Linked DNA regions of Homo sapiens: region 2 is linked to region 1. The links come from fine-mapping of genetic effects on gene expression. Tissue or cell type: monocytes. Region 1 holds a variant in brackets; the other region holds the start of a gene. All regions are shown on one strand. Distances are between the middles of the regions.

The links. PIP is the estimated chance that this variant, and not a neighbour inherited with it, causes the effect.
Region 2: FOXJ3 starts here. The variant in region 1 is fine-mapped to the expression of FOXJ3 in monocytes (BLUEPRINT, PIP 0.91).

The regions. Positions count from the first base shown.
Region 1 is chr1:42,188,477-42,193,625 of GRCh38, reverse strand. FOXJ3 (forkhead box J3) reads left to right here. Exons shown (of 13, transcript NM_014947.5): 9 at 1,907-2,323; 10 at 4,222-4,323; 11 at 4,698-4,889. Among named protein-coding and RNA genes, the nearest start is that of GUCA2A, 26 kb to the right of the region's middle. The variant A/C (reference allele first, on the strand shown) is at 2,101.
Region 2 is chr1:42,332,236-42,337,384 of GRCh38, reverse strand. FOXJ3 (forkhead box J3) reads left to right here and starts at 2,150. Exons shown (of 13, transcript NM_014947.5): 1 at 2,150-2,326. RefSeq lists a silencer at 2,114-2,633 and an enhancer at 2,218-3,175.

The DNA.
Region 1 (5,149 bases):
AAATGGCTTTTTCTGGTTAGTATTTGAGTTTAAAGTAAGATTCATATGTTTTCCAACTTTTAAATTTTTCATCTATAAAAGTATAAAAAGAACTAATGGAAGACTTTGCTAAGCAAATCCAACCTTGGTATTCACAATAGAAAAATAAGGGCTTTGAAATAACAATGATGACAATTTCTGAAGCCCATAATTCCATTCCATCACACTATTAAAAAAAAAAAAAAAAGGAACATCGATAGGAAGTCTGGGTTCTAGTCCAGGTTCTGCCATTAAGTCAACTGAGTTTACTTCTCATCTCTGGACCTCAGTATCCCCATTTGTACAATAAAGAGGGTTGGATTAGATCAGTGATTTTCAGATTGTTCTCTTCAGAGGCCTTGGCTTTTGTAAAGATCTTAGGGACTGCAGGAGGAGAACTGTGCAGATGCAGAGGTAGACCTAGTAAGCTTCCTTCCCCAGCTTCAAAAAAAAAAACTATATTATACTTATCAGTTTTATATATTGGGCTTCTGGAGAGATATTTTGCTTTCTTTTATTTAAAAATAATTTGAGATTGAAAATGTTGATACAGATCAGACCTTGGTTCCCTTGTAAAATGCTAGGATTTTATTGAAAATTGATAAATTACTGCTTTCTTTGATCTTACAGTAATAACCCTATAGATTCCTTATATGTGACTATTTTCTAGGACCAAGGCAAGAACTTTTATTAACTCTTCTGCCTGTAAAACTTGGTAGCTTTTAAGATTATCTTGCAATGAACACAAATACAGTTTTACTACTAATGACAAATAGAATAATTTTATCTTTTTTAAAAAGCTTGATTCTTTTATTGATTGATATTATCTTGTGTTTTTTTTTTTCATTCAATAAAATTATTTTTATGTTTGGTTCAGCATAACATTGCATGGGCTACCCTTTAGGATTTGAAAATAGTCTAGTTACATAGAACCAAATGTTGCAGTAAGGTTATCTAACTACTTGGAGAACAAACATAAATTATCCTTAACATTAAACATTTTTGGCTTAATCATCATCATGGCAGCTAACATTTACAGAGCTCATCCTGCAGCTTACACCTTCACTATGTAGAAAGTAAAAAGTTCCTCTTCATAGTTTCCCTTCTTGTTAAAGAGTAAATCATAAGTGTTAGAAATAATAGTTTCTTTTAAAAACTAACTTCCTTTAAGCCTCCTTACTTTATGCTAATAACTTTTTGTTGGGCCCTATCCTGTGTAGCTGTTAAACATGCTCACAGGCACGTAGTACATTCTATGTCCTTGTACCTTAACTGAGATATTTGTGCTGGACGTGCTCACAGGCATGTTCCAGCTTGCAGCCTATGCCCCTTCCCTATTTGGCATAAACAACTTCCTCTTTTCCTTTGTCTTTCCATTACTTTTACCTATTTGGAAAAGTTTTAAACTATTAGCCAGTCGAGATTTAGTTTAGATTGTGCGGTCTTCTATCAAAGCCTTGGTCTTTATGCCTACAGAGAGCCATCCTGAGTGTGACCCCCACACCTTTCCCACTTTTCCCCGAACATTTCCTTATCTTTCAAGACTCAGTTCAGGCACTGTCTTTAAAAGAAAGGCTTCTCTATATTTTCAGCCTTCTCCTAGCTGAACAGACAAGGAGCAGTTTTCATAATCCTCTGTATACTTTAGCTTTAGTACTTAAATTGTTGGTCATAATCTTGTCTTTCTCTTCCACTTGAGGGTGGGGCATTATATTTCTTCTCAATAACCACAGAGCCTAGTGTGCAGTGGATGTTGGATTAACACTTATTAAATTGAACCAGTGTTGCTTCCTGGCATCATATGCTTTTGTTATGTTAATAATTTTACAAATGTTTGTCATAAAATACAACTGAAATCTGACCATAAATGATCTTGCTTTGTTTTTAGGTTTGATGAACATCCCTTCTGAATCTTCCCAGCAGTCCCACACTTCATGTACCTATCAGCACTCTCCCAGCAGTACAGTGAGCACTCACCCACACAGCAACCAAAGCAGCCTGTCCAACAGTCATGGCAGTGGCCTCAACACCACAGGCAGTAATTCGGTTGCACAGGTCTCACTGTCTCACCCCCAGATGCAC[A/C]CACAGCCATCTCCACATCCTCCCCATCGACCGCATGGTTTACCGCAGCATCCGCAGCGTTCCCCACACCCAGCACCACACCCACAGCAACACAGCCAGCTCCAGTCCCCTCACCCCCAGCATCCCTCTCCACATCAACACATACAGCACCATCCGAACCATCAGCATCAGACGTTAACACATCAGGCACCCCCACCCCCACAACAGGTATCCTGTAATTCTGGTAAGTTTTTGTCTCCTGGTTTGTGTTTGGCTAACTGTGAATTAGGATCTGTCCTTTGTTATTTAGAGCTCATGTAGTATTTACTACCAAAACCTCTTTACATCTGTTTCCTTGCTATAATCCTATAGTTGTAACTCATTTAATTCATAGACTGACCTGGCGACTTTCTTGATTAAAATTTATTGTGGCAACATAGGCAAACCCAGCAACCCTTGCAGGTTTTTATTTTAACTCTTGTTTATAATTTAGATACATTATCTTACATTATCCTGCCAAATCAAGTATAGATGACCACATTTTATATATAGGAAAAGTGCAACTAAAAGAATTTTAAGTAATTTGCTTAAGATCATACTGTGGTAAGTGGTAGAACTGGGGTTTATATTCTGACATGTCTGACTTCAAAGCTTATAACACCAGTTATTCTAAAAGAACTAAAATTAGCAGACATTTGCTAAGTGGGTAGGGTTTGCTCACCCAGTCGCTGCAGAGTTTGCTTTATTTTTATTTGCCAGGTCACTATTTATTAAAGGAGCCTCCTCTTCCTCTTACCCACAACAACAACAACAAATTAGTCATGGCAAATGTCCTGGTTCCTGCTCATAATTTCATTTCAGTTAACCTTTTTCCTACCCTGACCTTTTGACTACCTGAGTTGTGTTTACCTCAAGAGATCTGGATTCTAGTACTGCTTTGGCTGTTGTATTACCTAAGTGACTTAAATCATATAATTCCTTTGAACCTTGGTTTCCTTATCCATGAAGTTCTTCTTGAACTAAAGGATCTGAGTCTGGTAGACTTGCATGTTCGTGGCTCATTTGGATATTAGTTTAATCCCCTCCCACCTAACAAATTTCTTCCTAAGTTACGACTTGCTTCATGGCAGGGTCATGTTGTCTCTAGTTGATTGTTTATTTTAAAAATCCATTATTGGCAGAATTTTGTAATCAAGTAGCCAGTAGTTGATATAGCCAAGAGTTGCCTTGATGTAGCAAAAGCAAACCAACCAGCCCTTTTTATTGGTCTTTATCTTCATCCATCCGGGGGAGGTCCTAGAAACAGTGGCTTGACAGCAGTCACTGAAATGAAGAATTTTCTTCCACTATTCAGCACTGCTGTCTCATTGAAGGTAACTCTTGCTGCATGGCCTCTGACTAATGACTGGTTTGCTGACATACAGATTATGGAGTCTTAAACTCTTCTGATGTCATACCAGAGGATACCATTTCTGACTAAAAATGCCCTGACGTGGATTCATCAGCATTTCTTGCAGAGATCTCACCCTTCTTCCTTCGCTACCTTGGCAGGGGGACTATGTTAAATTTTTTTCTCCTAAGGTTGCCTTGGAAGAAGCATTTACTCTTACTATATGATCTAATCCACCTGCGTTAAGTCATTGCATTAAATTGTACTATGTGTTGCCTCTAAATGTGAACCTGCCTCTCTTGAGTTTTTTAAGGTCATAAGAAGACAGGAAAATGAACTTTATATAGGGGAAAATACAGATTTGTGTGGCATTTCCTATCTGTTCATTTATTGGTACTGTAATGTAAAGAGCAGTATCAAGTTTGATATTACTAGGTGATGTGGCAATTTGGAAACTGCTAGACTGGAGGTTAGAAGACCTGGGTTCAAGTCTTAGATTCATCATGATAACCTTGCTAAGTTATGTCACTTCTCTGGTTCAGTTTCTTTTATTTGTAAAATGGAGAGAAATAATACCTTTCTGCCTGTCTCACAGAGCAGATTGCCCAACACGTGATATAATGGGTACAAATCCCCTTGTAAGACGGGACAAGAATCAGCCAATTTCAGGAATAAGGGCAGCTCATCGTTTTCCCTTACCACACTTCACCCTTTCACCATCCAGGAATTACACTGTTGTCAATATTTTATAGGTGTTTCAAATGATTGGTATGCGACACTTGATATGCTAAAAGAAAGCTGTCGAATTGCCAGCAGTGTTAATTGGTCAGATGTAGACCTTTCACAGTTTCAAGGTGAGTGTTGGTTCTTTTTGACATATAACCAAATACACATGATCCTGTTTCTCTGCTAGATTATAACTTTCTTTGTAGTAGAAATAAACATCATCTTATATAGCATTTCTTTTGCAGTTGGTAAAATTCATAATAATTTTGGCCACTTGGTATAGCAGAGGGTCACAGACAAGTTCTGAAAGAAATTTGACCACATTTAAAATAATTGGGCTTTGAATAATTTAAAAAGGTCATTCTTCATTGCGTGGATAAATCACTACCATAAAGTGGAGTGAGTGGAAATTTTGAGAGCTGAAAAAAATTATGTCTTGCTATTTTCCTTGCAATGTTTATTGCATAACAGTGCTAACATATTTTTAATGCTTTCCTCATAGGTCTGATGGAGAGTATGAGACAGGCAGATCTCAAGAACTGGTCTTTAGACCAGGTTCAGTTTGCCGATCTTTGTTCTTCTCTTAATCAGTTCTTTACACAAACTGGCCTTATACATTCACAGAGTAATGTTCAACAAAATGTTTGTCATGGTGCCATGCATCCAACAAAACCTTCCCAACACATTGGAACAGGTATGGGGTTAGTTATCTTCTTGATTTTTCTCATTTTCTCATTCGTACGAAATTTAGTAACTGTCTTAACCAACTTGGTTTGCTGCTAATGGTGACAGTGATCTGTTTACAAATTTTTATTTATAAGAAATGAATGAAAGCAAATAATTTATATGTAGGGTATATCTTAGAAAAATTGAGGTAATGAGACTATGTTTTTCTGTTGTGATTTATATGATTGCTTTATTATTTACAGTTAACTGTTGTAACCATTATCCTTT
Region 2 (5,149 bases), 140 kb before region 1:
TTTATCTTACTCATTGCTACTATCTAGTTCAAGCCATCATTCTGTACCTGGGTAATGGAGCCTCTGGCTTCCACCATTGTCCTCTTAGTTCTGCTCTTAGCACGGCGGCCAGAGTGATCTTTTGAAAGCACGAGTCAGATCCTATCACTCCTCTGTTCAAAGCCCAGCAGTGGTTCTGTTTCAGCCAAGATTCCTACAGCTCCCTACTTGAGACCCCTCTCTCTGATCTTATCTCCTCATTAGGCTCCCATTTGCTCACGGCTCCAACCGTCCTGGCCTTCTCATTATTTTTAACACTTCCCGAGGCTTTTGTCTCCAGGCCTTTCCACCAGCTAGCTGTTCCTTCTGCCTGGGACACTCTTCCCCAGACAACTGCATGGCTGACTCCCTCAGCTCTTTCAGGTCTCCGATTTAAAGTCATTTTATAAATGAGGCCCATGCTGACGGCTCTATTTAAAATTGCAGGCCAGGCGCGGTGGCTCAGGCCTGTAATGCCAGCACTTTGGGAGGCCGAAGAGCGCGGATCACTTTTGAGTTCGGGAGTTTGAGACCAGCCTGGCCAACATGGTGAAACCCCATCTCTACTAAAAATACAAAAATTAGCCGGGTGTGGTAGCGCGCGCCTGTAATCCCAGCTACTTAGGAGGCTGAGGCAGGAGAATCACTTGAACCCGGGAGTTGCAGTGAGCTGAGATCGCGCCACTGCACTCCAGCCTGGGCGGGAGAGCAGGATTCCCTCTTAAAAAAAAATTGCAAACCCCCTTCCTCCAGTTTTCCTCATACCCCTTACCCTGGTGTATTTTTTTTTCCCCATATGCCTTCTAACATATTACATAATTCTCTTACATTTATCATCTTTCTCCTTATATTAGAATGAAAGCTCCAACAGGGAAGGGTATTTGTTTTCTCTCTCTCTTCTGTTTACTGATACATCCCAAGCACTAAAATAGTGTCTGGCAACCTTAGTAGTGATTGGCAAATATTTGTTGAGTGAATGAGTACATGAATCTTCAGAATCTTGCTAGTCTTATAAAGAAAAGGAATATGTGAATACTTTGAATCTCCAGTGCCTAGAAATGCTTGACCAAACGGCAGGTGTTCAATGTTTACTGAAGGAATTGTGTGCTCAGATCTGCTGGAGGTCTTTATCTGAACCCTTTGAGACTATGTCAAAAAAGTACCCAGGGCCAATTCACTCATGCCTCTCCTTTTCCTCTCATCCAATCAGCCTAGTATTCATCTAACAAATATCTAAGTCTCCAAATATTGAGCCACCCATTGTGAGTTCAAAAGCGTGTTTGGCGCTGCAGGGGAATATGTGACTAACGCGAATGAAGCAACAGCAAATACTACACTGGAATGTAATTAAGTGTGAAATTATAGGGCAGATTATCAGTGCTAATAGTTTAGAGAAAGAATCAGTGAAGACTGACGTAGAAGTAAATTCCAAAGTTCACTCGTCGACCAAACTACCCTTCTAAACGCTCCACCTACTGATAGTAGTACCATAACCTGGGTAGCTACCTTGAGAATTAGAAGGGCCTTTAGAGGTCCAACTCCTTTAAGAAAGAAAGAAAGACCAGGCACGGGAAAGGCCTCCGCAGACATGAGTCTAGCACCTGGGACTCATGAAGTTCTGAAAAGAGGGGTGTCCTGAAGGTCCAAGGCGCCTTTGTTGGGGGTCCCGGAATCCGCGGTGTGCCAGGTCGGAAAAGGCGTCCGCTTTCCTGGAGAGGAGGCTAAGGTGCCGGGCGCTTCGGTGAGGTGGCGGATGTTGGGGGGCGGGGGAGGGCAGAAGGCACCATTCCTTCGGGGCATGGGGCCCCAGGTATCCGTGGGCAGGGTCCAAAGCCACCGATCCCTACTGTCCTCAACTGCGGGGTTGCCTCCGCCGCCTTTGCTCCCAGACGCCACTCCGAGGCACAAGGACCCCAAGTCGCTCGGAACTGCCGGCCGCTAGATGACACCGGCTGCGCCGATGCAGAGCCTCGGGAGTCTCAGGGCACTACTTGTCCCAGCGGAGGGATCCTGCGTGCGTCGAAGCGACCGTGACCGCGCAGGGACTTGACGCCGCTGACGCCGGGCCGGCGGCGCAGCGACGCCGCAGGAGGCGGTGGCGGCGAGGGCGGGCGGGGGATGCGGGTCGGGAAGTAGTTCCGGGTGCGCGGCCCCGGATGTTGGCTGCTCTTGCTGCCGCCGCCGCTCTCGGGGCTGCTCGGGGCCTCGACCGCTCGCAGTAGGCACCGTTGGGACCTTTCCCGGGGGGGCGGAGACGCACGGAGCGGCCGGGGGCTCGGCCGGGCCGTCCCGGCCTGCGCAGCCTGAGGTAAGTGCCCCCCGCCAGGGCGGCCGGGCCTGGGCGGCGGGCGAGGAGGCGGGGCTGTGGCATCTCCCGGGACGGAGGCAGGGGCTGTCCTCCGCGAGACGCCCTCTCTCTTCCAGCCGCAGCCGCGTTGCGGGGTGGGCGGCGGGTGGGGCAGGGGGCCTGGGCCCCGGCTGGGGCCTGGCGGACGCCGAGGGCTGGGTCCTTCCCTCCCCCGCGGCGCTTCTCAGCTGCTGCTGCCCCTCAGCTGGGAAGCAGCGGCTTCGCGTCTCCCGCCCCTCCCCCAGGCGGGGCACCGGGGAACCAGACGTGGATCCCGGGGGCGCCTAGTCCGAGGGCAGCGACCGTCTCCTTCCCTCCATGACCTGTCCCTTGGCCTGGGCTAGCCCCCGACCCCGGCACTCTGCGGCTTCTTCCCTTTAAGCTTGGGGGCGCTTTTCTGCCGGCAGGGCGGGCTGTACCTCACGCCTTGGAGTGGCCCTTTGGGGAGAGGAGGCCCATGCGAGGGTGCTTGCGTTCCCGCCCATCCTGTGTCTGTGTCCTTTGCTGGGATTAGGGCAAAGGCAGCCGTTCCATGCGGACGTGTTGCTGTCCTGTGTGTGTTGCATCCTGCCCACGTGGTAGAGTGTCTCCCGCCCCCCCTCCCAGCTCCATTTTTGCAGCTGGTGAGGAGGGAGGTTAACGGGATGGTTTTTCCTCTGTGATTTCCTCCGGGTGGCGTGGAAGGTGTTAGGGTCAGTTTGCTTTGCCGAGGCCGGCTGTTGGTTAGATGAAGAATCGAGAGTTGTACTCTGAAATTGAGGCCAGTAGGGGACATAACAGGGCTTAGTTTCATTAACATCTTTTTTCCTCTTCCATTAGCTGCTCTTATTCTTTTCTCTGTTGCTTAATTATAGAGAATAAGCGCTTGCTACCGATGCATTCAGGTGTATAGTTTTCATTTCTCTGTTTTACTTTTTGTGTGTCTGGTTAGCAAAGGTTTTACTATTCCGTGTTGGTGCATTCCACGTCTGTGTTGTCCCTGGTTGGATTCCTGAATGAGTTAGAGCCATTCACTCTAATTCCTGAAGGAGTTAGAGATTGGTGGGCACCTTTTTGGTCTTTTTCTGAGATTTATTTGTGTGTGTTTTCTTCCTTCTATTTTGTTTCCCAGTGAAAAAGCGTGATGTCATAGGAGCGTTATATGCATAGCTCTTTTTCTCACAAGGCAGCACTAGTTTCACCTAGTCACTTATTTTGTAGAAGCTCTTTTACTTCACTTTTCCTCTTACTCTGTTGAGTACCCATTGCACACTCTTTTTTTGAAACTGGTTTGAAACATGGTTTGAGTAGTTTTTTTCTTAATGTCTCTTCCAGATTAGGGTTTCCATCTTCTGTTTTGCTGTTTTGAGACCACAGATTGTTCCCGCAATAACAGTGAGAGAAGCCTATTCCTCCTGGTCCCTAGCAAATATTTATAGAAAAGCAGTAACTCCTCTCTTTTTCTGAGTGGTATATATTATATAGACGTGATTAAGTTTTTTAGTTTCTTAGATAAATAGGAGGATTTCTCTTTTTGCTTTTGTGTCTCAGAATTGAGGTGAATCTTCTTGGTTTTGTGCTGCCGAGGACAAAACTGGGAAGTTTCTCATGCTTTCATTAGATTTTTTTTGGATGAGGCTAGAACGTGTTTATTTTGGCTCTTTTTTGTTCATTAGTTTGGGTAAAATAAAAAAACTTAATGTTTCAAAGTCACTTACTAGATTCCAAAGTGGCCTGCATTCTCACTTTTTCACATTGTACATTCTTTGAGTATATTTTTGACATTTTTTTCCTTTTATCTGGTACAGTTCGTATATTCCCTTTCCTTCTATGTAGAATGAAAATATTTAAATATAGATTTTAGATTATATTTTTTCATTATGCTAAGTATGGGTGGGGCAGTGGAAAATGGAGAATGTTGTTCTGATACATACTGAGGCTTTTTGTTTTTTTTTGGTAAGTCAGCATTTGTGTACTTCTGTAAAGTACCGAGTTATCTATGTGTGAAGTCTGTATGAAGAGACGAATAAGATACGTGGTCTCTTGGAAAGCTTCAACTTATATCGAAAGAACAGAGTTTCTTTTTCTGTTCGGGAAACATGTACATCATTCAGAATTATCAAACTGCATCAAACTTCTCCTTGGGATAACAGTACAACCAAGGTCAAAAGTGTAAGGGACATTTGAGAAAGATACAAATTTCCAAAGGGAAAGAGGTGTATTTCAGGAGAGTGAAGGGGCCTGTGCAAAGCGAGAGAAGTGGCAATGTACAAATGATATCAAGGAGCTTGACTGTCAGATCATCTGTGTTGGTGAATAATAATAAATGAGTTTAGGATTGGTGAGGGGGTATTGATGGAGGATCTTTCAAGGATAGAGGGTTTAGTTTGATAGGGTACCACAATGGGTTCTAAAGAATGAGAGTAAGATGATGCATCTTGTTCCTGAGGAAGGTTTTTGTTTCAGCTGAGTGTCCTGGGAGTGGAGAGACTGATTAGAGTGCTTATGGAGAATTTTAGGAATAAGCTGATGAGGGTCTGATATAAGATAGTGGTTGTAGGAATAAAATAATAGCTAACATTTACTTACTGTATGACAGGTATTCTAAGCGCCTACGTTTGTTTAATTCATTAAATCTTCATAATAAGGTATTAAAATCAGAAGGGACTTTGGGCAAGTTGCTTAACCTTATGCATGTAATTATTCCCATATACAATGAACGGTTAGATGAAAGGTAGATTTTGCACTGACCAGGGATATAGATGCTAGTAAAACACATCAGTAGATGTGTGTTGGGAGGGTAGT